Homo sapiens: one gene and its partners. The protein of the gene in region 1 interacts with the protein of each later gene in a pairwise test. Each region holds a gene or a part of one and is shown in the gene's direction. Other genes may lie near its edges.

Evidence for each region.
Region 2: the proteins of BIK (region 1) and CLDN19 interact in binary tests that used the Homo sapiens proteins (3 or more experiments, as listed by UniProt).
Region 3: the proteins of BIK (region 1) and TMEM120A interact in binary tests that used the Homo sapiens proteins (3 or more experiments, as listed by UniProt).
Region 4: the proteins of BIK (region 1) and CNIH1 interact in binary tests that used the Homo sapiens proteins (3 or more experiments, as listed by UniProt).
Region 5: the proteins of BIK (region 1) and C14orf180 interact in binary tests that used the Homo sapiens proteins (3 or more experiments, as listed by UniProt).
Region 6: the proteins of BIK (region 1) and CYB5B interact in binary tests that used the Homo sapiens proteins (3 or more experiments, as listed by UniProt).
Region 7: the proteins of BIK (region 1) and MARCHF5 interact in binary tests that used the Homo sapiens proteins (3 or more experiments, as listed by UniProt).

Annotation. Positions count from the first base shown.
Region 1 is NC_000022.11:43,116,974-43,121,354, forward strand, and holds part of BIK (bcl-2-interacting killer), read left to right. Parts: intron 1-4,381.
Region 2 is NC_000001.11:42,734,914-42,738,116, reverse strand, and holds part of CLDN19 (claudin-19), read left to right. Parts: intron 1-2,086; coding exon 2,087-2,239; coding exon of another isoform or gene 2,240-2,355; exon of another isoform or gene 2,356-2,982; coding exon 2,983-3,031; 3' UTR 3,032-3,203. UniProt on the Homo sapiens protein: Forms paracellular channels: coassembles with CLDN16 into tight junction strands with cation-selective channels through the strands, conveying epithelial permeability in a process known as paracellular tight junction permeability.
Region 3 is NC_000007.14:75,986,331-75,989,844, reverse strand, and holds the end of TMEM120A (transmembrane protein 120A), read left to right. Parts: intron 1-620; coding exon 621-680; intron 681-1,328; coding exon 1,329-1,424; intron 1,425-1,503; coding exon 1,504-1,593; coding exon of another isoform or gene 1,594-1,696; coding exon 1,697-1,762; intron 1,763-1,860; coding exon 1,861-1,922; intron 1,923-2,034; coding exon 2,035-2,127; intron 2,128-2,242; coding exon 2,243-2,307; intron 2,308-2,416; coding exon 2,417-2,485; intron 2,486-2,559; coding exon 2,560-2,673; coding exon of another isoform or gene 2,674-2,813; 3' UTR 2,814-3,014; downstream 3,015-3,514. Other genes in the region: POR (NADPH--cytochrome P450 reductase), read right to left, coding at 3,364-3,508. UniProt on the Homo sapiens protein: Multifunctional protein involved in mechanosensation, and plays an essential role in lipid metabolism and adipocyte differentiation. May function as a potential ion channel involved in sensing mechanical stimuli.
Region 4 is NC_000014.9:54,424,061-54,428,441, reverse strand, and holds part of CNIH1 (protein cornichon homolog 1), read left to right. Parts: intron 1-600; coding exon 601-628; 3' UTR 629-4,381. UniProt on the Homo sapiens protein: Involved in the selective transport and maturation of TGF-alpha family proteins.
Region 5 is NC_000014.9:104,582,349-104,586,729, forward strand, and holds part of C14orf180 (nutritionally-regulated adipose and cardiac enriched protein homolog), read left to right. Parts: intron 1-4,066; 5' UTR 4,067-4,082; coding exon 4,083-4,193; intron 4,194-4,381.
Region 6 is NC_000016.10:69,427,048-69,431,428, forward strand, and holds part of CYB5B (cytochrome b5 type B), read left to right. Parts: intron 1-4,381. UniProt on the Homo sapiens protein: Cytochrome b5 is a membrane-bound hemoprotein functioning as an electron carrier for several membrane-bound oxygenases.
Region 7 is NC_000010.11:92,293,476-92,297,856, forward strand, and holds part of MARCHF5 (E3 ubiquitin-protein ligase MARCHF5), read left to right. Parts: intron 1-4,381. UniProt on the Homo sapiens protein: Mitochondrial E3 ubiquitin-protein ligase that plays a crucial role in the control of mitochondrial morphology by acting as a positive regulator of mitochondrial fission and as an important regulator of immune response.

The DNA of each region.
Region 1 (4,381 bases):
GAATCTTGGGGGGAGCTGCAGCTCAGGGTGACTCCCATCTTGTCACTAGCCAGGTGACCCCTTCATTCTGGAGCCTTAGCTCTGAAAGCCGCAGGTGGGGGTGCCGTTTCAGATGCCCCTTTTCCATTTCAAAGGCTCTGATTCTAGATCTTGAAGCCGGATGCGGCACTGGCACTTGGCTTCAGTTTCCACTGTGACGGACGGAGGTCTCCCAGGCCCAGCCCAGGCAGCCAAGCCCATCCTGGAATCAGAACACGCTGAGCACATTTTGTAGGGTGGCACCTTTTTATCCAAGTTACTAGCTACACATCAGTGTTTAAAGAGAAAAAAGTGAGCTGTCTTTTTTTTTTCTTGAAACTTGAGGAAACAAGGTACATACTACGGATTTTTTTTTTTCTTTTTCTTTTTTTTTTTTGAGACAGTCTCACTCTGTCGCCCAGACCGGAGTGTGGTGGCATGATCTCGGCTTACTGAAAGCTCTGCCTCCAGGGTTCAAGCCATTCTCCTGCCTCAGCCTCCCGAGTAGCTGGGACTACAGGCGCCCGCCACCACGCCCAGCTAATTTTTTTTGTATTTTTAGTAGAGACAGGGTTTCACTGTGTTAGCCAGGATGCTCTCCATCTCCTGACCTTGTGATCTGCACGCCTCAACCTCCCAAAGTGCTGGGATTACAGGCGTGAGCCACCGCGCCCGGCCCATATTTTTTTTTTTTGAGATGGAGTTTTTCGCTCTTGTCGCCCAGGTTGGAGTGTAATGGTGTGATCTCGGCTCACTGCAAACTCCTCCTCCCAGGTTCAAGCGATTCTCCTGCCTCAGCCACCCGAGTAGCTGGATTACAGGCGCGCACCACCACACCTGGCTAATTTTTTTTGAAACGGGGTAGAGACGGAGTTTTATTACCATGTTAGTCAGGCTGGTCTTGAACTCCTGACCTCATGATCTGCCCACCTTGGCCTCCCAAAGTGCTGGGATTACAGGTGTAAGCCACCGCGGCTGGCCCATTTCATATATTTTTAAAATTTTTTATTGTTAATTTATTTTTAGAGAGGGGGTCTCGTTGTATTGCCCAGGCTGGTCTTGAACTGGGCTCGTGCGACGTGCCCGCCTCGGCCTCCCGAAGGGCTGTGATGACAGCACAGCGGTGCCTGTGATCTATGGCTTCAATTTTTCAAGGCTGCCAGGTCCATGCAGGGGTGTGTGTGGGATGCATCCCTAGAAATCAAAGGTCATGTGCGTGTGTGACTGGTGGATGCTGATGGTCACACTACCCTCCAGAAAGGCAGCAACATGTTCAGTCCACCGTGGCGTCCTGAGCTGTGAGTGGCCTCTGGTCTCCTCTCTTCTAAGGCTGTTGATTGTGTTAACCAGCTTTTATGGAGCCCCTGCTAGGTGGTGGAAAATGGGCAGTAGTGTATGTTTTCATCCTCTCAGCAGCCCTGGAGGCCCGGCTGTTTCTGCAAGGCTCAGAGGTGAGCTGGTTGTTCTGCCTCACACAGCAGGGGCCGAGCAGGGGGTGGAACTGAGGTCCAGCCTGGCTGCAGGCTCAGGGCGTTTCCTGCTGGGTTACACTGGAGTTGTGTGCGCTCCAAGGGCTTTGTGCCACCCCACCCTCATGGTCCAGGGCCAGGCTGTGACTGGGAGGGTGGCACGTGGAAGACTGGACCAGGGTTTTCTAGCTGGGCCCACTCAGCTGGCCCTCCCTGTGACCCCAGCGTGGCCCCTGACCCTCTCGGTTTGCCTGCCTGTGAAACAGGAAGTGTCAGATCCCGCCTGCTTGGCTTTGACAGGACTGGGCGAGGTCATGAGAGTCTGAGGGTCCCTACCAGGAGTTCGACCTCATCCTCAGGTCCAGCCCCATCCACCTCTGCCCCCAACCCCGCTCTGACACTCCTGCAGCCTCGGCCCTCGAACACCTGCTGAGGGCTGAGCAGAACACATCTCTACTTGCTTGTGCTTCTGGGCAACCTGGGAGGGGCTTGGGAGGTAGATGGCGTTTCCCCATCTTCCAGATGAGCCATAGGCGAGCTGTCGAGTGCAGAGCTGTTCACCAAATGTAGGCTGCTCTGTCCAGAACCTGCCCTCCCTCCCACTCGGAGCCCTGCAGGTGCCCTCAAGGCCGTGGGTGTGGTACTCTTTTCTGCACATACTAGATTTGCATCCTAACCTCTTAGGGTAAAATAGGGCTTCTGACTGGCGCCTGGTGTTTCCACTGGTGAGTGTGTAGGAGGCTAAGTGCGGGCTGTAGCCTGGGTGGGGACACATGGCTAGGTGTGTCTTCCTTCACCAAAGAAGGGTTTCAACTACTCATTTGCAAGTTTGCTGGAAAAAAAAAGATAATAAAAACCAGTCCAGTTTCCTGTATCTGCAGCTGCAGTGACCTCACAGTGGGTCCTCTGGGAATAGGTTGCCTTCATGTCTTCAGTCAACAAACATATGTCTGCTCTATGCCAGGCCTTGGGCTGACAACCAGAAACTGATAAGAGCAGCAGCCCCTCTCTTAGCGGTTTACTCTGTGCCGGATCATTTCATCCCCACAACAGTCCTGTGCAATAGGTGTTACTAGTATCTCCATTCTAATTTTTTTTTTTTCTGATATGGAGTCTTGCCCTGTAGCCCAGCCTGGAGTGCAGTGGTCAGCTGGAGCCAGAGGGGAGCAGAGACAGGGGCTGCAGGACCCCCAGGAGGCCCCCAAGCAGACTCTGAGGGTCCAAGAAGGTGATGCCCGAATAGGCCAGCCTCATACCCATCCTCTCAGTACTTTGGGAGGCCCAGGCGGGAGTTGAAGCCAGGAGTTCCGAGACAAGCCTGGGCAACAAAGCAAGACCCTATCTCTACAGCAATTCTATAAAAATGAGCCAAGTGCAGTGGTACATACCTGTCGAGTTACCCTGGAGGCTGAGGTGGGATGATTACCTGAGCCCAGGAGTTTGAGGCTGTAGTGAGCATGATCAGGCCACTGCACTCCAGCCTGGGCAAACGGGTGAGACCCTGTCTGTGAAAAAAATAATAATAAAATTTAATTTTTAAAAAAGGACCAATAGGCGTAGGCATGGGCCGGTCTGAGGTTGGCTGGTGAGCTCTGCACATTTGAAGACTTTGGAGGCATGGCAGGACCAGGCACCATCCATGGAAAGCATACTTGAGTGTGGTTAGCGCGGGAACCAAGATTGGGGTGGCAGGGCCACAGGGGGAGGGCCTGTTAGTGGATGTGGCACAACCCCCCACTTGTTTTTGAGACAAGTCTTGCTCTGTCACCCAGGTTGGAGTGCAATGGCGCGGTCTCGGCTCACTGCATATTCTGCCTCCTGGATTCAAGTGATTCTCCTGCCTCAGCCTCCCAAGTAGCTGGGATTATAGGCGAGCGCCACCACACCTGGTTAATTTTTGTATTTTTAGTGGAGATGGCGTTTCACCATGTTAGCCAGGCTAGTCTCAAACTCCTAAGCTCAGGTGATCCACCTGCCTCCACCTCTCAAAGTGCTGGGATTACAGGCGTGAGCCGCACTGCACCAGGCCAGGTCTAGGGAGCCGAACAGAGCAGTGACAGGGTCAGGGTTGAGGCTGCTACCTTGAGATTAGGTTGGAGAGAGCTCCACTGAAGGCTGGAGACCAGTAAGGCATTCAGAGCTGGTGCCAGGTAGGAGCTGACAGGACTGGGCCTCCCTTGGGCTGGTGGGGTGGCCAGGAGAGACCAGAGCAGGAGGTCGCTGCTGCAAGGACCCTCCTGGGCAGGCTCCCCACCTTCCGCTCCCTGGCTCCACACTTTTCCCATGCAGATCTGGGCCCTAAGGCCAGCCTAGGCCCAGTTGGTGATGGGATCTTTGCCATTCATATCAAGTCAATCTGAGGGCCTGGGCCCAGAGGCCAGATGGTTAAAGGTTCAGATTAGGTCCCTTCTTTGTGGTAGAGGGTAATGGGTATTTAATAAATTAATCCAAAGTGCTGTAATCCCAGTACTTTGGGAGGCTGAGGCGGGTGGATCACTTGAGATCAGGAGTTGAGACCAGCCTGGCCAACATGGTAAAACCCCGACTCTACTAAAAATACAAAAATTAGCCGGGTGTGGTGGCATGTGCCTGTAATCCCAGCTACCTGGGAGTCTGAGGCAGGAGAATCACTTGAACCTGGGAGGCGGAGGTTGCACCTGAGCTGAGATCACACCACTGCACTCCAGCCTGGGCAATAGAGTGAGACTGTCTCAAAAACAAACAAACAAACAAACAAAAAAACACTACCACCAACAAAAACACAATAGATGGGGAAACTGAGGCTGGTGCAGGAAGGGTTGGGCTAGGGTATCAACCTAAGGTGAGATGTGGTCCTGGGTCTACTCAGATGGGGAGGTTGGCAGGGTGGGGAGCTTGAAAGGGTCTTGCAGGCA
Region 2 (3,203 bases), on another chromosome or scaffold:
GCTTTAAAGGGGGGCGCCAGGAGGAGTGTGGTGGGGCCCTCCATAGGGGCGGGAGGCCTGTGATGGGCACCCAGGTGCAGCAAGGACTCTCTAAGGACCTAAGTGCCCTGGCTCTGGGTTTCAATCCCAGCTCTGGCTGGGTGCAGTGGCTCACGCCTGTAATCCCAGCACTTTGGGAAGCCAAGATGGGTGGATCACCTGAGGTCAGGAGTTCAAGACCAGCCTGGCCAACATGGTGAAACCCCGTCTCTATTAAAAATACAAAAAATATCTGGGCATGGTGGCGGGCGCCTGTAATCTCAGCTACTCGGGAGGCAGAGGCAGGAGAATAGCTTGAACCCGGGAGGCAAAAGTTGCAATGAGCCGAGATTGCGCCACTGCACTCCAGTCTGGGTGACAGAGTGAGATTTTGTCTCAAAAAAATCAAACGATCAATCAATCCCAGCTTTGCATGCACTGTGTCACCTGGGCAAGTTACTTAATCTTTCTGTGCCTAGTTTCCTCCTCTGTGAAATGGAGCTAGAACCTGAGCACCAGTTCACACATGGTTGTCAGGATCCAGCAGGATGCAGGTGAGGGTGTGGCACCGTGCCCGGGCCCTGGACAGTACCCAGCAAGCCTGAGCTGTTTTCATTTCTGCTGGTGGCAGCAGGGCTGAGATGACTTCCTGCAGGAGGCAGCAGTTATTCTGGGCCAGGAAGAAACTTGAGAATAAGGGCAGATCGTGGAGGGCCTTGCAACCACAGGAAGATTTTGTTCCTCATTTGGGTGGAGGCAGCGGCAGTCCTTCTGGCTGTGATGTGCAGAATGGTGGGGAGGGAGTGACACCAGGAAGGCGGCTGTCCCAAAGGTCTGAGCAGAGAGTTTGGGGCAACAGGGAGGGAGCAGTGGAAAGCAGGCTGATATTCAGGAGATAACCAGGACTTGTAAGACTGTGGGCATGGGAACTGAAGGGGATGCTCTGCAAAGGGCCTGGGCCCACCTTGGCTCCTCCCTCACTTCTCAGCCTAGCCAGGAGCAGAGAATGGGACAGTCTTAACCCTAGACATCCCAATGGGCTTTGGGCCTTGGGGTGGAGAGAGGATGAGAAAAGATGTCTGGGCTTTTGCAATCGGGAGGGATGCCTGGAGGAGGCAGAGGTGTTGAGAGGCAAGGGGAGGGAGGAGATCTCAGGTACAAGGTTTGTTCCCTGGGTGGTGGCTGCAGCCACAAAGTCTGCCAAGCAAGGTCCAGCTCAGGCATGTCAGGATAGGACTCGGCCCCCGATCCCTTCAACAGTCCCCAATGCCACTTGGGCTGCCAGGCCCTGTGCTGGGTCCTGGGGACACTGATGGCTCTGTCTGCCCTCAAGGGGCTTCCCAGGGAGCCGGACAAGCAAGGGGCTGAGGCCTCCTGGAGAAAGCATGGTAGTGGAGTCGGCGCAAGGGGCGGGGTGAACACAGAGGATGTCAAGGAAAGACCCCACGAAGAGGTGGCATCTGAACTGGGCTCTGAAGGCAGAGAAGGAACAGGGGAGGCACAGGAGTGGTGGGCTGGGGGGCTTGGTGCCCCAGCTGGGGGTGCCTTGTGCAAAGGCACCAAGGCAGTGAGAACCAGGAGCAGGGCTGGCCTGGCCAGCAGGGTCTGGGTGTGGAGAGCCCAGAGTGCCAGGTGGAAGGGTCTGGCCTTCTCCAGAGGGCAGCGGGAGCAGTCTTGGCTGGGAGTTCTGTGGGCCAGAATGTGACTGGGAAAAAACATGGCAGGGATTGCCCCACTCCTCCCGTGCAGACCTCTCAGGCCCTCCCATGCCCCCTCCACTGGCCAGATCAGGAAATGAGCCCAAGGTTGCTCAGAGCAGGAGCTGGAGGCCCAGCCTCTAGCCTTCACGCCTACCCCAGGCCGGGTCACCCTGTGTGGTGTTGATATTCTGGGCTGGGGGGGAGGGAGAAAGGAAGAGCATTCACCTCAATTTATCTGGAGATATGGAAGAGGTTGTGAGGCTCCAGCCTCCAGCTCCACACACTCTGCCCTTCCTCTGCCAGGGCAGGGACTGGGAACAACCTGAGACGGCAGCCACACCTGATGCCACTCTCCCTACCCCTTGCAGGTATGAATTTGGCCCAGCCCTGTTCGTGGGCTGGGCCTCAGCTGGCCTGGCCGTGCTGGGCGGCTCCTTCCTCTGCTGCACATGCCCGGAGCCAGAGAGACCCAACAGCAGCCCACAGCCCTATCGGCCTGGACCCTCTGCTGCTGCCCGAGAGTACGTCTGAGCTCCGCCTGCCCTGGCCAGCCCCCCACCCAGTGGCCCCCTTGCCCAGCATCCAGCCAGCCTCGCAGCACCCTGGGCAGGGCCACTGGGGCATAGGATGGGCATAGGTGCTCTGAGCAGCTTGTCCTCAACACAAGCACCCACCCTGCAATCTGAGACCCAGATCCTCAGAGAGACACCAGAGGCAGGACCCAGCCCCCAGGCATACACACAGATGCAGGTCCAGGCACGGTCTTGTCTGCACAGCCTGGTGGGCACCAGCATGCATCCCTGGAGACAGGCCCTCAGGCACCAGCCCGGCTGTTTACTCACTGAAGAGCTGCTTGGGTGTCTGCTACGTGCTGGGCCCTAGAGATAGAGCAGTGGCCAAGACGTACCTTAGTACCCAGGTCCTTGGGGTGAGCAGAAACCTTCACCCTCCCCAGTCCCATGGGCTCCTCACAGCAACCCCACAAGGGCAGTGCCGGGATGCTGAACGTTCACACAAGGACAGGGAGGGTCTGAGTTTAGGTCTCAGGTTCTTCCAGTGCGCCCAGGGCTGGGGGCCACCTACACAGATGGTGAGGTCGGACCATGGCGCCCCTGCCCCCGGGAATGGGCCCCAGGCAGGGCTGCTGTGAGGGCCAAGGTCTGGCCACGCTGGCCAGTACCCATGTCCGGGCCTGAATGCACAGCCCCTGCCCCCGACCCCACAGCTCACTCCACTAACCAGCTCTCTCTCTTTTGACTTTCAGACCAGTTGTTAAATTGCCCGCCTCCGCCAAGGGCCCCCTGGGTGTGTAATGTCCAGTCCCCAGCCAGGCTCTGTCCCCTGCCATACCTAGACTGTGTGTTTCATATTTTTTTGGAAAGAGAAGTGAACATCCAGCCCCAATCATGGTATCATTCGGTCTGTCCTCAGCGTGGCTTGGACGGGGCCTGTGTCAGAGTGGTCAGTGCTGACCCCTGGGGCTCT
Region 3 (3,514 bases), on another chromosome or scaffold:
ATTGGCGGGTGGCCTGGGGACTCAGCCAGCTCTGATGAGATCTGGGACTGGAGAGCGTGGGGGCCTCGGTGAGGGACAAGGGGGGTCGTGGTGGGAAGAAACGCCCCGGGAGGCTGAGTACTTGGGGTCAGCCCACAGTCAGAGCTCTGAGTTTCTGTTCTGGTTTGGGAGGTCGTCCTAGATGTGGCCAGGCGTGTGGGTCTCTGAAGTGGAACCTAGTACTGCAGGTTCTGGAGGGGAGGTGGCAGGGAGCTGGGGGGTAGGTGGTGGCCATCGCACAGGGGAGCAATCGGGGACAGGGGGACGGCCCTCAGCAGGGAGGGAGAGCCGGGTTCTCTTGGTGCCCTGAGGTGGGGGAGTTTCAGACAAGACTCTGGAGATGGGGGGGAACACTGTTTCCTCCGGGGGTCAGGATTCCGGAGCAGGCGGCCAGGAAGGCTGGGCATGGCAGGGAGTGGGTCTGCAGCCTCCAAGGTCAGAACCCGATGCCAAGGCCCTGCGGAAAGCAGCGGGTGAGGGGGTGGGGTGGTGGCCCAGGCTCTGGCCTGGCAGGCTTGGCTGAGTACCGGTGGCTTGTCTGTCACTCGGGCTTCTCCTCACCCCGCCACCCCCTTCCCTAGATTGTACCTGAGCCTGGTTCTGGGGAACGTCAACGTCACGCTCCTGAGCAAGCAGGCTAAGTAATCAGGCCGAGCCTCCACCCCCCAACCTCCACCCCTCCACCCCTAGCCCCCTACCCCCCTCCCCCCCTCAACCTCCACCCCTCCACCCAGCCTTCCCCCGGAACCCGGCCTTCCCCTCCACCCCCCAACCCGGCCTTCCCCTCCACCCCCCACCCCACCCGGCCTTCCCCTCCACCCCCCACCCCACCCGGCCTTCCCCTCCACCCCCCCACCCGGCCTTCCCCTCCACACACCCACCCGGCCTTCCCCTCCACACACCCACCCGGCCTTCCCCTCCACACACCCACCCGGCCTTCCCCTCCACACCCCCTCCCCGCCTTCCCCTCCACACCCCCTCCCCGCCTTCCCCTCCACCCCCCCACCCGGCCTTCCCCTCCAGCCCCCCACCCGGCCTTCTTCCCCTCCAGCCCCCCACCTGGCCTTCCCCTCCAGCCCCCCACCCGGCCTTCCCCTCCACCCCTCCACCCGGCTTTCCCCCCAACCTGGTTTTCCCCTCCACCCCCCACCCCACCTGGCCTTCCCCTCCACCCCCCAACCCGGCCTTCTCCTCCATCCGACTACCCTTGGCTCAGCTGCCCTCCCGGGGTGGGGGCACACATGGGCCCCACCAGCACCCCACCCGTCTCACCGGCCTGCGCCCCCCAGGTTTGCCTACAAGGACGAGTATGAGAAGTTCAAGCTCTACCTCACCATCATCCTCATCCTCATCTCCTTCACTTGCCGCTTCCTGCTCAACTCCAGGTGGGCGTCCCACCCCGGCCGAGGACCCACCCCATCCCCAGTCGCTGCAGTACCAACCCTCGGTCCCCTCCCTCCGCAGGGTGACAGATGCTGCCTTCAACTTCCTGCTGGTCTGGTACTACTGCACCCTGACCATCCGGGAGAGCATCCTCATCAACAACGGCTCCCGGTGGGCAGGGCGGGCCCTGAGGGAGGGGAGCATGGAATGGGGTGCCAGGACCCTCCGGGAAGCAGGAACAGGCGCTGGGGGTGATGGTGGCTCTCTGCTCCAGGATCAAAGGCTGGTGGGTGTTCCATCACTACGTGTCCACCTTCCTGTCGGGAGTCATGCTGACGTGGTGAGTGGCTGGGCCCCGGCAGGGGCAGGAGCTGGGACAAGGAGGGGATACACGGCATCCCCAAGGGTCCCCACACTGCCCTCCACTTTTTACCTTAGGCCCGACGGTCTCATGTACCAGAAATTCCGGAACCAATTCCTCTCCTTTTCCATGTACCAGAGTGAGTGTCCCAGATGTCTGTGCTGAGCCCTGGAGGCACCCGTGGTGGGGGGCAGGGGCAGGGAACCCCTCCCGGGGCTCAGCCCTGCTCCTCTGTCCTCCGCCCGGCCCAGGCTTCGTGCAGTTTCTCCAGTACTACTACCAGAGCGGCTGCCTCTACCGCCTGCGGGCGCTGGGCGAGCGGCACACCATGGACCTCACTGTGGGTGAGTCGGGAGTGGCCCTGGCATCTGGACATTCCCCTTTCCTCCCATCCCGGGTCTGAGTGGTAGCGTCCCCTCTGTCCCTGGCCGTCCTGTGCCCTGACCTTCCTCCCCGCAGAGGGCTTCCAGTCCTGGATGTGGCGGGGCCTCACCTTCCTGCTGCCTTTTCTTTTCTTTGGACACGTAAGTCGTGCCTCTGTGTCCCTGCCTGTCTGTCTGTCCGTCCTCTGCGCCGGTTTCGGGCTCCAGCAGGGACTGGGTCTTCTGAGTAAAATGCCTCCTCCCTGCTTAGTTCTGGCAGCTTTTTAACGCGCTGACGTTGTTCAACCTGGCCCAGGACCCTCAGTGCAAGGAGTGGCAGGTGAGCCGGGGTCCCTGGACAGGATGGATGGGGGGCCAGGCCCATGTCCAGCCCTCACCCTATTCCTCCGGCAGGTGCTTATGTGCGGCTTTCCCTTCCTCCTCCTTTTCCTCGGCAATTTCTTCACCACCCTGAGGGTTGTGCACCACAAGTTTCACAGTCAGCGGCACGGGAGCAAGAAGGATTGAGGCTGGGCCTTCCCCTGCCGGCCCAGAGGGGCTTCTGTCCTGTGTGTTGTGGGAGGGGATGGGAGGCGCCCCTCGAGTGTGCGTGTATCAGGGGGTCTCTTCTATTCTCCCTTGGGTTTTATGGGCGCTGTGGGCCCTGAAGGAAGACCTGGGCCCAGTGCCCTCAATAAAGAGAGGCCCAGAGGTGGCCTGAGCGTGTGTGTTCTCCTGGGGGAGGGGAGGGCTGGGTGGCCCCACCACATGGGTTCCTGGGGTCTGAGTTAGTTAAGTTGATGCAGGTGGAGGTCCCAGATCTACTCACACAATACCAGGCAAATACAGAAAACAGAACTTTATTCCAAGGGCCAGAGGTTATTTAAAATTATTTACACTCACTGGAAATCACGTGGAGGGGCTGGGCCCAGCTCAGCAGAGAGAAAGAGCCCTTCTGTGCAGCCACCGAGGGCCAGAGGCCTCCAGAGGCATGGAGCCCGGTGCCCCCATGCAGGCCCTGGGCTGTGCTGCCAGGGGCCGGTGGACCTCACCTGGCCTGGGGGCTGAGGAGGATGCACCCCAGGCCCAGAGGAGTCTTTGTCACTGGGCCTGCGCCCATGCCAAGGCCAAGCCAAACACACCCAGGAGACTACGGGAGGGAGCCAGGAGAGCTGATTACAGGCCGGAGTCTGTGGGGTGGGTGGGGCAGGCAGGCCCCTAGCTCCACACGTCCAGGGAGTAGCGGCCCTTGGTCATCAGTTTCTTGATGTAGTCCACCGCCTGCGCGTGCTCCATGGCCCCGAGCTCAGCCACGATGTCGTAGAAGGTGTTCTGCACATCCCTGGCCATGTTCCGTGCATCCCTGGGC
Region 4 (4,381 bases), on another chromosome or scaffold:
ACTCTGTAGAATTGCCCTTGGCAGTTCTTAAACCTAAATCAAAAGGTCATTGCCTTTTATTTTGCTGTTTTCCCCCCTTTTCTTTTTTAACCACTTCCTAAAAGTTGCTATTGCTTAGATCCTTTCTGTAATGGGAAAGATCCTTGATTGATCATTCCTTTCTATACAATGGGGATACACATGGTACCTGCCTTCTAGGACTCCTTGAAGGATTAAGCAAGGTAATGTATATAAGAGACCTAACAGGGCCTGGCGTGAAGTGAGCCCTCCAGAGATACTCATTCTATTATTAGACACAACTCCAGAGTGTGTGATGTTTGGATGGCTTCTCTAAGCTCTGATCCGCCATTAAGCTTTCAGCTGTGCCGTTCTACTTGCTAAAATTGGAAGGGAATAGGGGACAACTACAGCATATGCACTGAGCCAAGTCATATGTTAGGCAAAAGTCCATAAATGCAAATTAAAATCACTGTGAACTTGTCATTAGTCTTGTCATTTTCTGTGATACTAGTTTGCTATATAAAGCATACTCTCTCATGCTCTGAGTTTTTTTTTAATAATTAGTAATGTTCAAATTAACATCTTTTTTCTTCTTTTCAGCATGATCTATGTTTTGGTGAGCTCTTAGAACAACACACAGAAGAATTGGTCCAGTTAAGTGCATGCAAAAAGCCACCAAATGAAGGGATTCTATCCAGCAAGATCCTGTCCAAGAGTAGCCTGTGGAATCTGATCAGTTACTTTAAAAAATGACTCCTTATTTTTTAAATGTTTCCACATTTTTGCTTGTGGAAAGACTGTTTTCATATGTTATACTCAGATAAAGATTTTAAATGGTATTACGTATAAATTAATATAAAATGATTACCTCTGGTGTTGACAGGTTTGAACTTGCACTTCTTAAGGAACAGCCATAATCCTCTGAATGATGCATTAATTACTGACTGTCCTAGTACATTGGAAGCTTTTGTTTATAGGAACTTGTAGGGCTCATTTTGGTTTCATTGAAACAGTATCTAATTATAAATTAGCTGTAGATATCAGGTGCTTCTGATGAAGTGAAAATGTATATCTGACTAGTGGGAAACTTCATGGGTTTCCTCATCTGTCATGTCGATGATTATATATGGATACATTTACAAAAATAAAAAGCGGGAATTTTCCCTTCGCTTGAATATTATCCCTGTATATTGCATGAATGAGAGATTTCCCATATTTCCATCAGAGTAATAAATATACTTGCTTTAATTCTTAAGCATAAGTAAACATGATATAAAAATATATGCTGAATTACTTGTGAAGAATGCATTTAAAGCTATTTTAAATGTGTTTTTATTTGTAAGACATTACTTATTAAGAAATTGGTTATTATGCTTACTGTTCTAATCTGGTGGTAAAGGTATTCTTAAGAATTTGCAGGTACTACAGATTTTCAAAACTGAATGAGAGAAAATTGTATAACCATCCTGCTGTTCCTTTAGTGCAATACAATAAAACTCTGAAATTAAGACTCACTTTCAGTGCATTGTTTGAGATTAAAAATAGTATTTCTTAAACTTGCTTAATCCATGATAAAGACATGTTGCTGTCATTTTTAAAAAGTGACGTACTACATTATGGGTTTTCTGAAAAATACCATGCCTAGATCTAAAAAGGAAAATTTTTAAATGCCGAGCACATTAACCTCTTTTGTCATTTGACAAGATTCATAAACGTGGATGGCATAGCATCATCATTTCTCTTACCAATTAAGAAAAATTATGGTGGCACTTAAAATATTTTACTTTGATTTTTCCTTTTTGGAACAGTCAGTTTTAAGGTAAAATGGCTTGTAAATTTGAGTTTTTGCTGCTGCTTGTAAGGCAGGTAAATTATGGCTTGCATGTTTTCATAAGCATAAATAAATCTTGTGCTTTATTTGGGATGAGGAAGTTAAGGCAGTTGAAAATAAAATAAGTGGTTTGGAAGTTTCTTGAGAAGAGGATCAAAAGAAAGAGAACCAATATATAGAAATTTCACATGATCAAGGAAGTTTATGGATGCGTTTGTGGAAATCTTACTCTATGAACTTGTTGGATTAGATGCTGTTTTATTCTCTACTAAGTGAAAAGTGCTTTATTTCAGTGCTTTCCCATGGTTGGGAGAGAGTAGCTGTTAACTATTCTGGGTAATGGGGGTGAGTATGTTGAGGAAGAGATTTAGAACCAGAAGAGTGAAGAGACTCAAACTGTTCCATAACAAGGAAAGCTTTAAAGACCTTGTATTTCACAGTCTGGAGAACTAGAGGGATCTGACTCTTGGTCAGTTCATGTAACAAATTATTTATTGAGTACTTGCTGGGCTCTCAAGATTCATGCTTTGAGCACAGGCAGTCATTCAGTTTCCAGTCCACCTGATTACATCAGCATGCACTTAGTTTTCTTTCTTGTTCACAAGGACTTTTGATCATGCAAGACCTGGCCAAGTCTTCTATAATCCAGATGGGTTTCCTGGGGCTGTTACTTGAGTATTCCTGTCAAAATATTTTCGTGAACCCTGCCTCTCTTAGCAAACACTACTTCATAAGTGTTAACAAACATCCTTTTAATAATCTATTCCAGAATATTCTCCAGGAGTAAGTTTACTGGTTGGGATTTGTGGAAGCCATTTTCTCATGTTTCCCAAATAAGATATGTAGTCTTCAGCTGATTCCTCAAAGATGATTGACAGGGAGTTTCACCCATCTTTGTGGTAGTTTGTGAGTTCCTAGGCATGTAAGTGATTAAAAGATTGAGTACCTGCTCTCCTAATATCTACCCACTTTTACCATGTCAGTGTTTTATGAATTAGATCACTTACCAAGAGAAAGCAGAAACGAAATACTTGAATCTGACAATATCCGACTGGCTCTTTTCATTGCTCTGGATTTATTTTCCACATCAATCTCTTTGGGGTGGCCCTAGCCTATTATTCCTGTGGGTTCAGCTGAGGCATGGTTAGCCTGGGTTTATAATTCAGTTTACGTTAAACATTCCCTGTGCAGCAACAGCTGTTCATTTAGGTACTCTTTTTTTTTTTCTCCTTATTACAGTTACTTTTGGTATTATGTGCTTTATCTTTAAAAGCTTTCTAGCTCTAGGAAATTGTTTTCCCTGTTTGTGTCTATTTTATTGCATCTTGTGTAACACTGTGGTTATATCTATACCAACAACTTTTTGTTGCTATGGATACCACAGATTGTCCTGAATTAAAACCCTAACATAATAAATGTCTGTTTAGCCGTTACTTTACTGAGTAATAATACTATATTGTGGCAGTATGGCCCTTTAATACTAAGGAGGTATGGTGTAGAAATTATTTGAACACTCATATCCAAATGTTATTAATGATGTTTGACAGTTTTCTCAATGCTTAATGATATTCCTCACTCCTCATTCCAGGGTAGAGGAGGGTTTGGTCCCAGGCTATGGACAAACTGCTAATTTGTTTGAAGTTTGAATTATTTTTCATGGGAAAGGGAAGTGATAGGAAATGACCAAGACCATCCACTTTTGACTTGAGTATGGATCGAGTATAAGTAATAGTTTCCTAGCCTCACTGATTGTACCATGAACTGACAGACCTACCAGTCAAATTCATGTACCCAGATAATGGTCTCTCACATGGCAACAAAGTACACAGCAGTTTGCAGTATGTGTCTCTTTTAAAGCCAGTTCAGTGTTTTCACCTTGACGACCACTCCTGCAAACAGTTCTCATAGAGCTCTTCTCTGCTCCCCAAATCAATATATTTTGAAGCTATGTCAAATATTTACATAGAAAGGAAATAAAGTTGTATGTGCTTTGAAACCAGCAAAATCCTTTGTACAACACCTCTCTTCTCCTTCTATGTTTATGAATAGAGTTCGTGGAATATTGCCATAGTGCAAATAATGACTTCCGTGTATCACTTATACCCTGTAGGGGTGAGCTTTCACCTTAGGTGTGGTTATATCCTAGCAGTGTATCAAGCCCACTCAAATAATGGTCTATATTTAAAAGTATGTGTCTAGTTTACTTATTTATGTCATTTAACATCCATAAATGTACATCTCTCAGTTGTATATCATGATTGTAAATCAGAAATTTTGATGGCAAAAATATTCTAAAACAACATTCTTCAGGGGAAAGAAAAACATGGATACCTTATCTAGCATTGCTCATAAAAGTACTCATGTTCATCCTTTTTGGAAACTATTAATCATGCTAGCCTTAGATCATTTTAAGCTCCTTTGCTCAAACCAATCATTGATGTGCAGTATGACCAGCAGCTAGTAAGTCTGTGGTGCTACCAGTATAGCTTGGAAGATGGTTCTGAATTAATACCTCAGAATGATATCAAAAGTAAAAGAGTGGTTCTATTG
Region 5 (4,381 bases), on another chromosome or scaffold:
GGGACTCGGCACTGCCACGGCCGCTGGGCTCCATCAGTGCCCTCACGTCTCTCAGCAGCTTCAAGATGAGGTGGGGTCTTTGGGGTACTGGGCTAGACCCCCAAAGACTGTTGGAGGGTCACACCCCAGACCAAGGTCCTGGGCCTCAGCCCTCATGGCCCCACCTCCCACCAGCAGTACGGGCTGGTCATGCCCACAACTGGGAGCTCCGGGCCCTGACTCCCGCCTCTGTCCCAACCCAGGCTCTGAAACCTGGCAGGCTGTTCTCCCTCTCTGGGCCTCAGTTTCCCCTCCGCCAGGGAGCTCGGTGCCCCCTCTCAGTAGAGGAGCTGGTAAGAACCCCCCAGCCCCCCAGCACCAAGGGAGGCGCCATGGGGTTCCTGTTCCCAGAGTGGGGGTAGAGTCCCCTCGGGTGGACGCGCCCTCCCCAGCAGCGGGCCTAGCGGGACACTTACAGGTCCAGGCTCTGAAGCTATTTTCCGCCCTTTATCTCCCATCTGTCACGAGGCCTCCAGTTACACACTGTCCCTGCCAGAGGCCCCAGGCCTCCCCGCCCCCACCTGCCGAGCATGCCAGAGCCACTCCTTCCCTGCTTCCACTGGGGAAAATGAGGCCCAGGGAGGTCACACCACTTACCCGAGGTCACAGAGCCAAAGAAGGACAGAGCCCAGGACTTGAGCCAGACCTCTCTTCCAGAAGGGGAAGCGTGAAGCCCAGTTAGGGAGGGGATGGCAGGGCTCAGGGAGGCTGTCTGGGAGCAGAGCATGGCCCACGTGAAGGTGCATCTCTGGAGAGGGGACCGCGGAGCTCAGGGAGGCTGCCTGGGAGCAGAGCGTGGCCCACGTGAAGGTGCATCTCTGGAGAGGGGACCTCAGGGCTCAGGGAGGCTGCCTGGGAGCAGAGCGTGGCCCAGGGGAAGGTGCATCTCTGGAGAGGGCCCCAGGGCTCCCGGAGGGGAGGTGTCATCCCATAGGATGTCCTGACTGTCCAGACACAGCCAGAGCCACCTGAGCTCTGTTCCTGGGCACATTCCCTCCCCGAGTGATGCCAACAGTGGCTGATGGCACAGAGCACAGGCTTGGTGCGGACTCGGGTCTGTGCACTGACTCCCACCCTCACGCGAGCCCGCAGAGGCTGCTGCTCTCCTCACCCCCATTTCACAGCTGAGCAGACCAACGCCCAGGCAGATTAGGAGACTTGCCTAAGGTCACACGTGGTCACACAAGGTGCTCTGGAGCCCACACCTGAAGAGGGGGAGGTGCTGTCCCGTAGGAAGTCCTGACTGTCCACATTCCGGCAGAACTCTGTGCCCCAGAAGGCGAAGTCGCGTCCTCCCCAAGTTATGCTGCTCAGCAACAGATGGTTAATGCCACAGCCAGGCACCCTCACAAACACACTGCCTACGCCTGCACATTCACATACACTCTACACAAACACACACACATTCACCCACACATACGCAGATACACTCACACACACACACGGGCACATGCATGGACACACACACACATGCATATTCACATGCACGCACAGAAATACAAGTACACATATGCACACATAGCCACACCTCCATGCACACATTCACACACACAGACACCCCACACGTGCACACTCATGCCCTCTGACACACGTGCCCACTCTCACACTTGCACACTCAGGGGAATACTCACACATGTGTGCACTCACACACGTGCACACACACACTGTTTTCCCACCATCCCTTGGACAGACCCCAGGCCAAGGAGGGGTGAATAGCGAGAGCTGCTGGCAGGAGCTGGGGGAGACTGCGTCCAGCCCTGCATCCCTGCGTGACTCCGTCGGCCCAAGCCTCTCCAGGCCTGTTTCCCCATGAGGAGTGAACCTGGCTGGGCCCCCTGGAATGCTGCTGCAGGGTCGCCTGGCAAGGGGCTGTGGCCCTGGGCACGCCAGCCAGCCCCAGGCCGTGCAGCCCCAGGAAATGACCCCGAATGCACAAGCCTCCTTCCGCCGGGCAGTGGGAGAGCCCGGGCTCTGGGTCCAAGAGGTCACTGGGGGGCTCTGCTCCACCCCCAACCCCACCCTGGGCTTTAGCAGAGTTTCTATCCCACCCAGGGTGGAAACTGAGTCAATGGCATCCAGAGAGCCCTTCCAGCCCCAGCCCTGCTACGGACAGGCAGTCAAGGTTGCCCTGCCAGGCAGCATCCCCAAAACACCAGGACAGGCCTGGCACTCTGTGGCTTCCCTAACCCTGGGGATCACGCAGAGCCCACATTCCAGGTGACCTGGCCCCAGGAGACGGGGCCCCAGCTCAGCTGGGCCTGCAAGCACAACCTCTCCCACAGCCACTCTCTGAGAGCAGGTCCTGAAGATAAGCCGCCCCTCCCCGCCACCCCCCTGGATGGCCGGCTCCTGCCACAACCCTATTTGCAATAAAAACCTGATCCGGCGATAGCAGAAAATTGCTCTCTTTTGAAATAATTGAACCCGTCCAGACAGTGTCCTCCCAGACATCATTAACAGGGCACTCTGCTTGTCTGCAGTATTTATGCCCACTTGGGGAGGTGGTCATGGCCACCCTGTTATCTCCTGTAGAGGACGGCACACGGCTGCTGGAGTCACTGCAGTATCCACCCAAACCACTCCTCCCACAGGCCTGCCCTGAACCTCTGAGGCACCCATCCCTTTGGGGGACCCTGGAGGAGTTATCCTTGAGGACCATGTAGGCCCCTCACTCTCACCCTCCCCCTTCTCAGCCCTTGGGGGCAGGGTCCTTGGAGGACCACGGGGAGCCAGGGAAGCATCTCAGGAAATGCAAACACCTGCCCTGTGAGGGGCAGGGGCGGCAGTACCCTCCAAGGACCCCAGGGCAGGGGAGAACCTGAAGGGCAGCAGGAGGTCCCCACACTGCCCCCTATCCAGCTGGGAGCAGGGCAGGGAGGACCTGGCCTGGCATCAGCTCCCAGGGAAGCCCCAGCCCCCTCTGGCCTCAGTTTCCCGACCTGAAGCAAGAGAGGCAGGCTCATCACCCCCAGAGCCCTTGAAAGGCAGACACCTGCACCTGCACAGATGCCTGGTAGGCACTGCACCCCTCTGTAGGGAGGAGTGCCCAAAAGTCAAGAACCCTGCCAAGGCTGTGAGAGAAAATTCACACTTGGGGGGCTCCACCGGTGAGCACGAATGAGGAGAGCACAGCCTCTGCCGCCAAAGACACGGGGGTGGAGGCGAGGAGGCGCCATTCACAGCCAGGAAGCAACCAGCGCAACAGAGGAGGGGACAGAGAGACAGAGATAGAGGTAGAGAGATAGAGAGAGAATCAGAGAGAGGAAGGGGGACAGAGACAGAAACAGGGAGATAGAGACAGAATTAGAGAGAGGCAGGGAGACAGAGATGGAGACAGAGAGAGAGACATAGAAAGATAGAGACAGAATCAGAGAGAGGCAGGGGGACAGAGAGATGGAGACAGAGAGATAGAGACACAGAATCGGCGGGGGCGCGGTGCAGAGAGAGACACAGAGAGAGAGTGTGAGCCGTGCTGAGGGGTGGGCCCCCAGGAGCCCAGGGGCGCCCCACCAGCACCAGCCCAAAAAGGTGGGCATGACCCTCTGGGAAGCCTTTCTGTGGACCCGGTCTCAGAGCCCTGACAATTCCCAGTCCCCAGCCCCAGGGCTTCCCGCTACCGAAAGGAGACAAAGCAAAGATGTTTCTTGCAGCCTTATCCATGACCTCCAAACATTGCAAATGACAATACTAAAATGCAACCCTCATGAATACCCAATCATCGAGGGTGACTTTCAGTGACGGGACCTCGGCCCAGTGGAATATTATGCAGCCATTAAAGATGATAATTATGAAGACCGTGGCAGCAAAGGAAATTGCTTGCGATGGCATTTCTGAACGAGCAGGGAACAGGATTTACCTGCACTGGGGACACCACAGAGGAAAAGTGGTGTCTGCTCAACAGCGTGGCCGGTCGCAAGCCCGGGAAGCCAGCCTGGCTTCCAGGAAAGAATTTTCTCCTCCTCTTATTTTCATTCCTCTGAGTGCCACTTGTGCAGTAAATAATAAATAACGTCTCTGCTTATCTTAGGACCATGTTCCAGTAAATGAGGACTGCAGCAGGAGCCGTGAGCCCTGACTCCCGGCCAGAGACACGACGTCAGACCAGAAAGAATGAGGAGGCCGCGTGGGGCCCGCGGGTGTGCAGGGCAGAGAGGGTAAGGCGGGCCGCTGGGACACAGCTTCTGCAAGCTGGCCTTCCACTGGGGGCTGGAGGGGGCAGGGAGCAACAGACGTGGAAAGGCCATCCTCCACCCCAGGAATCAGGGGGTGATAGGAGGAGGGCAGGGGGATCACTGAGGGCTGGGGGGAGCAGCGGGGGGCAATGGGTGCCTTGAAGGATTTG
Region 6 (4,381 bases), on another chromosome or scaffold:
TGGCCAACACGGCGAAACCTCGTCTCTACTAAAAATACAAAAATAAGCCAGGCTTGGTGGCACCTGTGATCTCAGCTACTTGGGAGGCTAAGGTAGGAGAATCGCTTAAACCTGGGAGGTGGAGGCTGCAGTGAGGTGAGATGGTGCTGCTGCACTCCAGCCTGGGTGACAGAGTGAGACTCCATCTCAAAAAAAGAAAAAAAAAATCATGTTTTTCATTTGTGGTTTTATTTCCCTCCATTTTTTTTCTTGATTGATTCAGAATAGATGGTGAGCTTGGAGGGAACACTCAGCCCTTACAGAGAGCATTAATTCAGTCTCAAGTAATAGTTGCTAACCTGTTTCTTTCTTTTTTTTTTTCCTCTGTGAAGATTCCAGAAGTAACTAACCTGTTTCAACCACATGCTGATATAGCCAGAGACATCACTAATGTGCCAAGGTTTCTCTTGGAGCTTGAGCTGCAGCTCTTTACCTGCAGTTTTGTTTTTTTTGTTTTGTTTTTTGAGACAAGGTCTTACTTTCACCCAGGCTGGAGTGCAGCTCACTGCAGCCTCAGTCTCCTGGGGTCAAGTGATCCTTCTATTTCAACCTCCCGAATAGCTGGGAAAAGGTGTGCACCACGACGCCTGGCTAATTTTTAAAATTTTTTGTAGAATTGGGGTCCCACTGGCTGGGTGTGGGCTCATACCTGTAATCCCAGCACTTTGCGAGGCGAAGGTGGGCAGATCATGAGGTAAGGAGTTCCAGACCAGCCTGACCAAAATGGTGAAACCTCGTCTCTACTAAAAATACAAAAAAATTAGCTGGGCGTGGTGGCACACACCCGTAATCCCAGCTACTCAGGAGGCTGAGGCAGGAGAATCGCTTGAACCCGGGAGGTGGAGGTTGCAGTGAGCCAAGATGGTGCCGTTGCACTCCAGCCTGGGCGACAGTCAGACTCTGTCTCAAAAAAAAAAAAAAAAAGAATTGGGGTCCCACTATTGCCCAGTGTGGTCTGGAACTCCTGGGCTCAAGGGATCCTCCTGCCTGGGCCTCCCAAAGTGCTGAGATTACAGGTGTGAGCCACTGTGCTCAGCCTAATTAGCTATTCTTATTTATTCTGTTTTCTTGTTCATTCCAAGCCTATTCATTCATTCACTTATTCAAATATTTATTAAGCCTTTACTATGTTCTAGACACTGTTCTAGGTGCTGGGGATTTAGTAGTGAATAAACAGCTATGCCCTCATGGAGATTACATGGCACAGGAGGCAGACGATAAGCAGAGTAAATAACTAAAATATATACTACATTAGGTAGTGGTAAGTGCTAAGAAGAAAAATAATACAGGGGGCTGGACACGGTGGCTTAGGCCTGTAATCCCAGCACTTTGGGAGGCCGAGGCGGATGGATCATGAGGTCGGGATTGAGACCATCCTGGCCAACATGGTGAAACCCCATCTCTACTAAAAATACAAAAATTAGCTGGGCATGGTGGCATGTGCCTGTACTCTCATCTACTTGGGAGGCTGAGGCAGGAGAATCACTTGAACCCAGAAGTTGGAGGTTGCAGCGATCCAAGATTGTGGCACTGAACTCCAGTCTGGTGATAGAGTGAGACTCCGTCACAAATGAAAAAAAAAAGAAAAATAATACAGGGAAGAGGACTGTGGAATATTTATGTGGTGTGAGGAGGAGGGTTTGAAATTTTAGCGATGGTGCCGAGATAACTTTATGAAGATGACTAAGTAAAGGCCAGGAGCAAAGTAAAGGAGCTAGCCATGAGGGTATCTGTAGGAAGAGCATAGAGCATTCCTGGCAGAGGAAACAAGTTCAAAGGCCTTGAGATGGGAGGATGTCTGGTATGTTTGAGGAACAGTCAGGGAGGCCACAGTGGTTGAATAGTTGCACATGAGATCAGAATGATCAGGGGAGGACAAATCATGTACAACTTCACAGGTTTTAGGAAGGACTTTGGCTTTTATTCTGAGATGGGAAATCATTGGAGCAGAAGAGTGACATGATGTGACTTAATGGCGTAATAGGATCGTTCTGACTACATTGTTGTGAAAGACTGAAGGAAGAGTGTGTCTGGAGTTGGTTCCTTCCGGTGGGTTTTTGGTCTCTCTGACTTGAAGAATGAAGCCATAGACCTTCGCGGTGAGTGTTATAGCTCTTAAAGGTGGCACAGACCCAAAGAGTGAGTAGCAGCAAGATTTATTGTGAAGAGTGAAAGAACAAAGTTTCCACAGTGTGGAAAGGGACCAGAGCAGGTTGATGCTGCTGGCTGGGGTGGCCAGCTTTTATTCCCTTATTTGTCCCCGCCCACATCCTGCTGATTGGTCCATTTTACAGAGTGCCGATTGGTCCATTTTTACAGAGTGCTGATTGGTGCATTTACAATCCTTTAGCTAGACACAGAGTGCTGATTGGTGCATTTTTACAGCATACTGATTGGTGCATTTACAATCCTCTAGCTAGACACAAAAGTTTGCCAAGTCCCCACTCCACCCAGGAAGTCCAGCTGGCTTTGCCTTCTTAAGAGGACAAGGGCAGAATTGAGGAGACCAGTTAGGAGGCTGTTTTAGTAATTAGGCAAGAGATAGTGGGTTGTACCAGAACAAGTGTCAGATTTTGGATGTGTTGTGATGGAAGAGCCAATAGGATTTAATGATGCGCCAGATTTGGGGAATGAAAGAAAAATGAGTCAAGGATAACACCAAAGTTTTTGGCTTATGAGTCTTCAAGAGTTGGGTTGCTATTAGATGAGAGAGGGAAGATTTACATTGGTATTCATCCTTCTCTTTCCAATCTGATGTCACTTTGGGGCCCCTCCTTTAGCAAGAGGTTCCTAATCTTAAGTGTCCTGTGTCTGTAGCTTACCATTTTTTTGATTAATGACTGGTTAGAGTATGATACTGGAGTTTGAATGTGGTAGTTTAGAATTAGTAATATAATTGAATTGTCTTTCCCTGGCAGATTAATTTTGCATTGTTTGAATCAGTGCATTCATGAGTTGTTGAAATCATGAATGAAAGTAGTACATGTCATTATCTTTCCACCATTTAGTAGTTTAGAAAAATCACATAAAAATGATTGTAATATCTTATGACATTGATAGAAAATATCAAAGTGCATCTCTCTTATCAAGGGTAAAATTTTGTGAAACTTTGTTCAGTTATATATAATGTATTTTTTTTTCTTTTTTTTGGAGACAGTCTGGCTCTGTTGTCCAGGCTTGAGTGCAGTGGTGCCATCTTGGCTCACTGCAGCCTCTGCCTCCTGGGCTCAAACAATCCTCCGCCTCAGCCTCCCAGGTAGCTGGGACTACAGGTATGTACTACCACACCCTGCTAATTTTTTTGGTATTTTTTTTGTAGAGATGGGGTTTCATCATGTTGCCCAGGCTGGCCTCAAACTCCGGGCTCAAGTGATCCTTCCGCCTTGGCCTCCCAAAATGTTGGGATTACAGGCATGAGCCACTGTGCCTGGCCTATAATATCTCATGTATATGGTGTTTATTGGATTGCAGTGTAAAATTATTTCCTTACTGGGTATTACAAGTGAAAATTTGGAAGCCATTGACTTGTGTATAAATAGTCATTTGTCAAAAGAGTAACTTGAAATAACATTGTGATATTTTAAAACTTTTTTTTTTTTTTTTTGAGACAGAGTTTCACTCTTGTCGCCCAGGCTGCAGTGCAATGGCATGGTCTCAGCTCACTGCAACCTCTGCCTCCCAGGTTCAAGTGATTCTCCTGCTTCAGCCTCCTGAGTAGCTGGGATTACAGGTGAATGCCACCATGCCCGGCTAATTTTTCTATTTTAGTAGAGATGGGGTTTTGCCATGTTGGCCAGGCTGGGCTTGAACTCCTGACCTCCGGTGATTCACCCGCCTCGGCCTCCCAAAGTGCTGGGATTACAGGTGTGAGCCACCATGCCCAGCCCTATTTTAAAGCTTTATATGTGTATTTATTTATTTATTTATTTTGAGATGGAGTCTTGTTTTGTCGCCCAGGCTGGAGTGCAGTAGCATTACCTTGGCTCACTGCAACCTCTGCCTCCTGGGTTCAAGCGATTTTCCTGCCTCAGCCTCTGGAGTAGCTGGCACTACAGGTCCCTCCCACCACACCTGGCTAGTTTTTATGAGATGGGGTTTCACCATGTTAGGTAGGCTGGTCTCGAACTCCTGACCTCAAGTGATCTGCCCACCTTGGCCTCCCAAAGTGCTGGGATTACAGGTGTGAGCCACGGCACCGGCCTATATGTGTTTTTAGAAACTGTCACCATAAATGAGAATATTACTTTAGGAACCATCTCATAAATGGGATAACATTTTATTAACCCAACAAATATTTGTTAAGTTCTATATAGTAGTAGGCCCTGGTGGTGTATAAAAATAA
Region 7 (4,381 bases), on another chromosome or scaffold:
AGCCAAAGAGTGAGCCTGGGCACGGTGGCTCACCCTTGTAATCCCAGCACTTTGGGAGGCCAAGGCAGGCAGATCACTAGAGCTCAGGCCTTTGAGACCAGCCTAGCCAACATGGTGAAACCCTGTCTCTACTAAAAAAAAAAAAAAAAATACAAAAATTAGGCAGGCGTAGTGGCGTGGGCCTGTAGTTCCAACTCTCGGGAGGCTGAGGCATGAGAATTGCTTGAACCTGGGAGACGGAGGTTGCAGTGAGCTGAGATCGCACCATTGTACTCCAGCCTGAGTGACAGAGTGGAACTCCATCTCAAAAAAAAAAGCTAGTGAGGCATTTAAAACTTATTAACAGAAATGCGAAGATTCTGGCTGCCATTTACTGAAGTAGGTGACTATGACACTGGCTTACTCTCATCTTTGTACTACTCTCATCTTTGTACTCTTTTGACATACCTTAAGGTAGATTTTTAACATGACTTTCAAAGACCGTTATTGTCTAGATTAGTAGTTGGCAACCTACTTCCATGTTAGAATTACCTGGGGAGCATTTCAGAATATGCATGGATGCTGGACTGTAAGACCAATAAGATCAAAAATTTCTGTAGGGTAGAGCCTGGGCATCTATATTTTAAAGCTTTTTAAATGTTTTAGATATGGCAGAAACCTACTGCCCTAAGTCCTAAGTCAGTGATATCTTTCATGATAAGAGATAGTAGGGTATAGTGAGTAAAGCTTGGGCTCAGAGATAGAAAGTATGAAATTCGAATTTTGCCACTTACTAGCTATGTGACTTTGAACTTAGATTCTGACACTATGTATATTATCATTTATAAAATGAGAACCCTACTTCACAGGGCTACAGCAAATGAAACATACATCTCTATAAAACAGCAAAACACTCTATGTTAGCCAAATAGAAGGCACTTAAGACTAATGTAAACCAGTTTGGCCATTTTTCCCCCATCTACTTTATGTTTACAGCTTTCTTCACCTGGGCTGGCCCTACTGCAAGTTGAACACAAAGATACTCAACATGGTTCACTTGAGGAATACCAACAGGGCCAAGAGACTAAAATATGTCAGCCTATTAGGACCCAGAATTCTTTTCATGAATTTGGCTTCTCCCCAACCTGGTTTTTGGTGGCAATTTTTGAGGGACAGAATTTAGCTCAGATAACTGTTCATTTGTTTATTTCTTTAATGCAGGTTTTATCTTCGTGAAGACTAAGGAACTGTGTGTTACATATTGTTCTGTTGCTTTTAGGTTAAGTTACGTATTTTATTTAGGCCAGGCACAGTAGCTCATGCCTGTAATCCCAGCACTTTGGGAGGCCGAGATGAGAGGATTGCTTGAGCCCAGGAGTTAGACACCAGTGTGGGCAACATGGCAAGACTCAGTCTTTACAAAAATGTTAAAAATTAGGCCAGGCCTGGTGGCACATGCCTGTGGTCCCAAATATTCAGGAAGCTGAGGTGGAAGGATTCCTTGGGGGTCGTGGCTGTAGTGAGCTGTGTTTGTGCCCCTGGGTACTACAGCCCAGGTAACAGAGCAAGACCCTGTCTTAAAAAAAAATGTTATTTTTCAGTAAATCAATTATTAAACATTTACACTTATTGAATTTATTTAACAAATACTGAGTGTCTTCATATGCCCAGTACTATTCTAGGCCCTTGGTATATAGTGGTGAATTGAACATAACAAAAATGCCCTTATGGAGCTTCAATTCCAGGGGTGTTTGTGTTGTCTAAACTGTCAAAGTGAAGACTATTTTAATTGTAATATGAATGGTATGTTCAATTTATACCATTTAATCTTTCAGGGTTTTTAAACTAGAGGCAACTTTTCTTTTTTTTTTTTTTTTTTTTTTTTTGAGGCGAAGTCTCACTCTGTCACTTGGGCCAACTGGTGACAACTTCTTTTATTTATTTATTTATTTATTTTTTATTTTTTTTTTTGAGACAGAGTCTCGCTCAGTCGCCCAGGCTGGAGTGCAGTGGCGCAATCTTGGCTCGCTGCAAACTGTGCCTCTTGGGTTCACGCCATTCTCCTGCCTCAGCCTCCCGAGTGGCTGGGACTACAGGCACCCGCCACTAAGGCCAGCTAATTTTTTTGTATTTTTAGTAGAGACGGGGTTTCACCGTGTTAGCCAGGATGGTCTCGATCTCCTGACGTCGTAATCTGCCGGAATTGACCTCCCACAGTGCTGGGATTACAGGCGTGAGCCACCGTGCCTGGCCTGTGGCAACTTCTTAATAGCTGAAGTTGAATTCCCTTGTCCTTTGCAAATAACTCACTTTAGTTTAGCTATTATTTGTTTATATTGGTAACTTTGATTACTGTAATATTTGTAGGTGGAAAGAATACATATACATACGTATATATATACATACATACATATATATATGGAATTTTTTTTTTTTTCATGGAATTTCGCTCTTGTTGCCCAGGCTGCTGGAGGGCAGTGGCGCGATCTCGGTTCACCACAACCTCCGCCTCTCGGGTTCGCGTGATTCTCCTGCCTTAGCTTCCGGAGTAGCTGGGATTACAGGCATGTGCCACCACGCCTGGCTAATTTTGTATTTTTAGTAGAGACTGGGTATCTCTATGTTGGTCAGGCTGGTCTCGAGCTCCTGACCTCAGGTGATCCACCTACCTCTGCTTCCCAAAGTGCTGGGATTACAGGGGTGAGCCACCACTCCTGACCATATGGATATATATTCTTTGGATTGCCTTTCGTTTTTATAAACTATAAGTGTTTTATGTAAATTTATTATTTGAACCTTTTAAGTTGTTGTGGGGAAACAAGAATGGTGGAAAGGGGGGTGATTTTTCTAGTGTCGTGAATGTTTCAGTGTCACAAATATCATTTCCCTGAAATGATAACCATTCATAAGCCCAAACCCTTTATGTCAGGCCTTTTGAACCTTAGTTAGCTCTTCTGTCTTTCATTGCTTCAATTCTTTAATAAGAAGTTGTTATATATTACTTTCTCTTTGACCACCGACATTCTCATTTTTCTCTAAAACTTCTCAAAGTTAGGAGTGAATTTACAGAGAACAATGCAAAGAATATTATAACAAACTGCAGGAATGGACCTCTGATTTGAAGCCTGGACCTACTGAGAAATGCTTTTGGAAACTACTTCTGCTTCCCCCGTCTTAAAATAAACACGCATTAATTTGTTGAGGTTGTTTTGCATCACTTACTTGCATCTAGTAAATAGGCAAGGAGTGTAGCCAGAATGTCCCCAGAATGGTCAGATGGCAGAAAGAGCAGAGAGAGTGGTCTATTCTTCCAGCCCCCTCCCACAATGGTATAGTGAATTAGAATTCTGCCTCTGTGAGAGTGTTATCCACAGATGTATACCCCTTTGAAGACCAAGGAAGCTATACTCTGATAGGAGCATGCTGTATAAACAATTTCACATTTTCTTTGTCAGTTGACCTCTTTTTCTCAATCACATCACCATGTTGACAATTACAGACCAATGCCCAGAATTAAAAATCATCATCAATTATATTTATTTCCAGATATATGTAAAAAATGGAAACATCATAGATAAAATTAAATCCCCTTTGACCACCATCCCCAATGGCATATCTTCTCATCCCCACTCCACTATCATAAAATGGGTTTATATTCTTCCATCCTTCTTGGTTTAATGCTTTTATATAGAAAAGTATATTAATAGACTACTTTTTTTTTTTTTTTTTTGAGTCAGGGTCTTACTCCATTGCTCAGGCTGGAGTGGAGGGTCACAGTCACGGCTCACTACAGCCTCAACCTCCCAGGCTCAAGTGATCCTCCCACCTCAGCTTCCAGAGTAGCTGGGACTACTGGTGTGCACCACCACACCTAGCTGATTTTTTGTATTTTTTTTGTGGAGATGGAGTTTCACCACGTTGCCCAGGCTGGTCTCAAACTCCTGGGCTCAAGTGATCCGCTCGCCTCGGCCTCCCAAAGCTCCCAAAGTGGGGGACTACAGGTGTGTTCCACCACATCCAGCTTTCAACTTTTTTTTTTTTTTTTTTTTTTTGAGACAGAGTCTCACCCTGCCACCCAAGCTGGAGTGCAATGGCGTGGTCTCGGCTCACTGTTGCAACCTCCACCTCCTGAGTTCAATTGATTCTCCCACCTCAACCTCCCAAGTGGCTGGGACTACAAGCACGTGCCACCACACCCAGCTAATTTTTTGTATTTTTAGTAGAGACAGGGTTTCACTGTGTTGGCCAGACTGGTTCAAACTCCCGACCTCGTGATCCACCTGCCTCGGCCTCCCAAAGTGCTGGGATTTCAGGCATGAGCCGCCACACCTGGCCTTTTTTCTTTTTTAATCCAGTCTCGTTTATGACATTTAGATTCTTATTTTCTCTTTATTATTTTTCC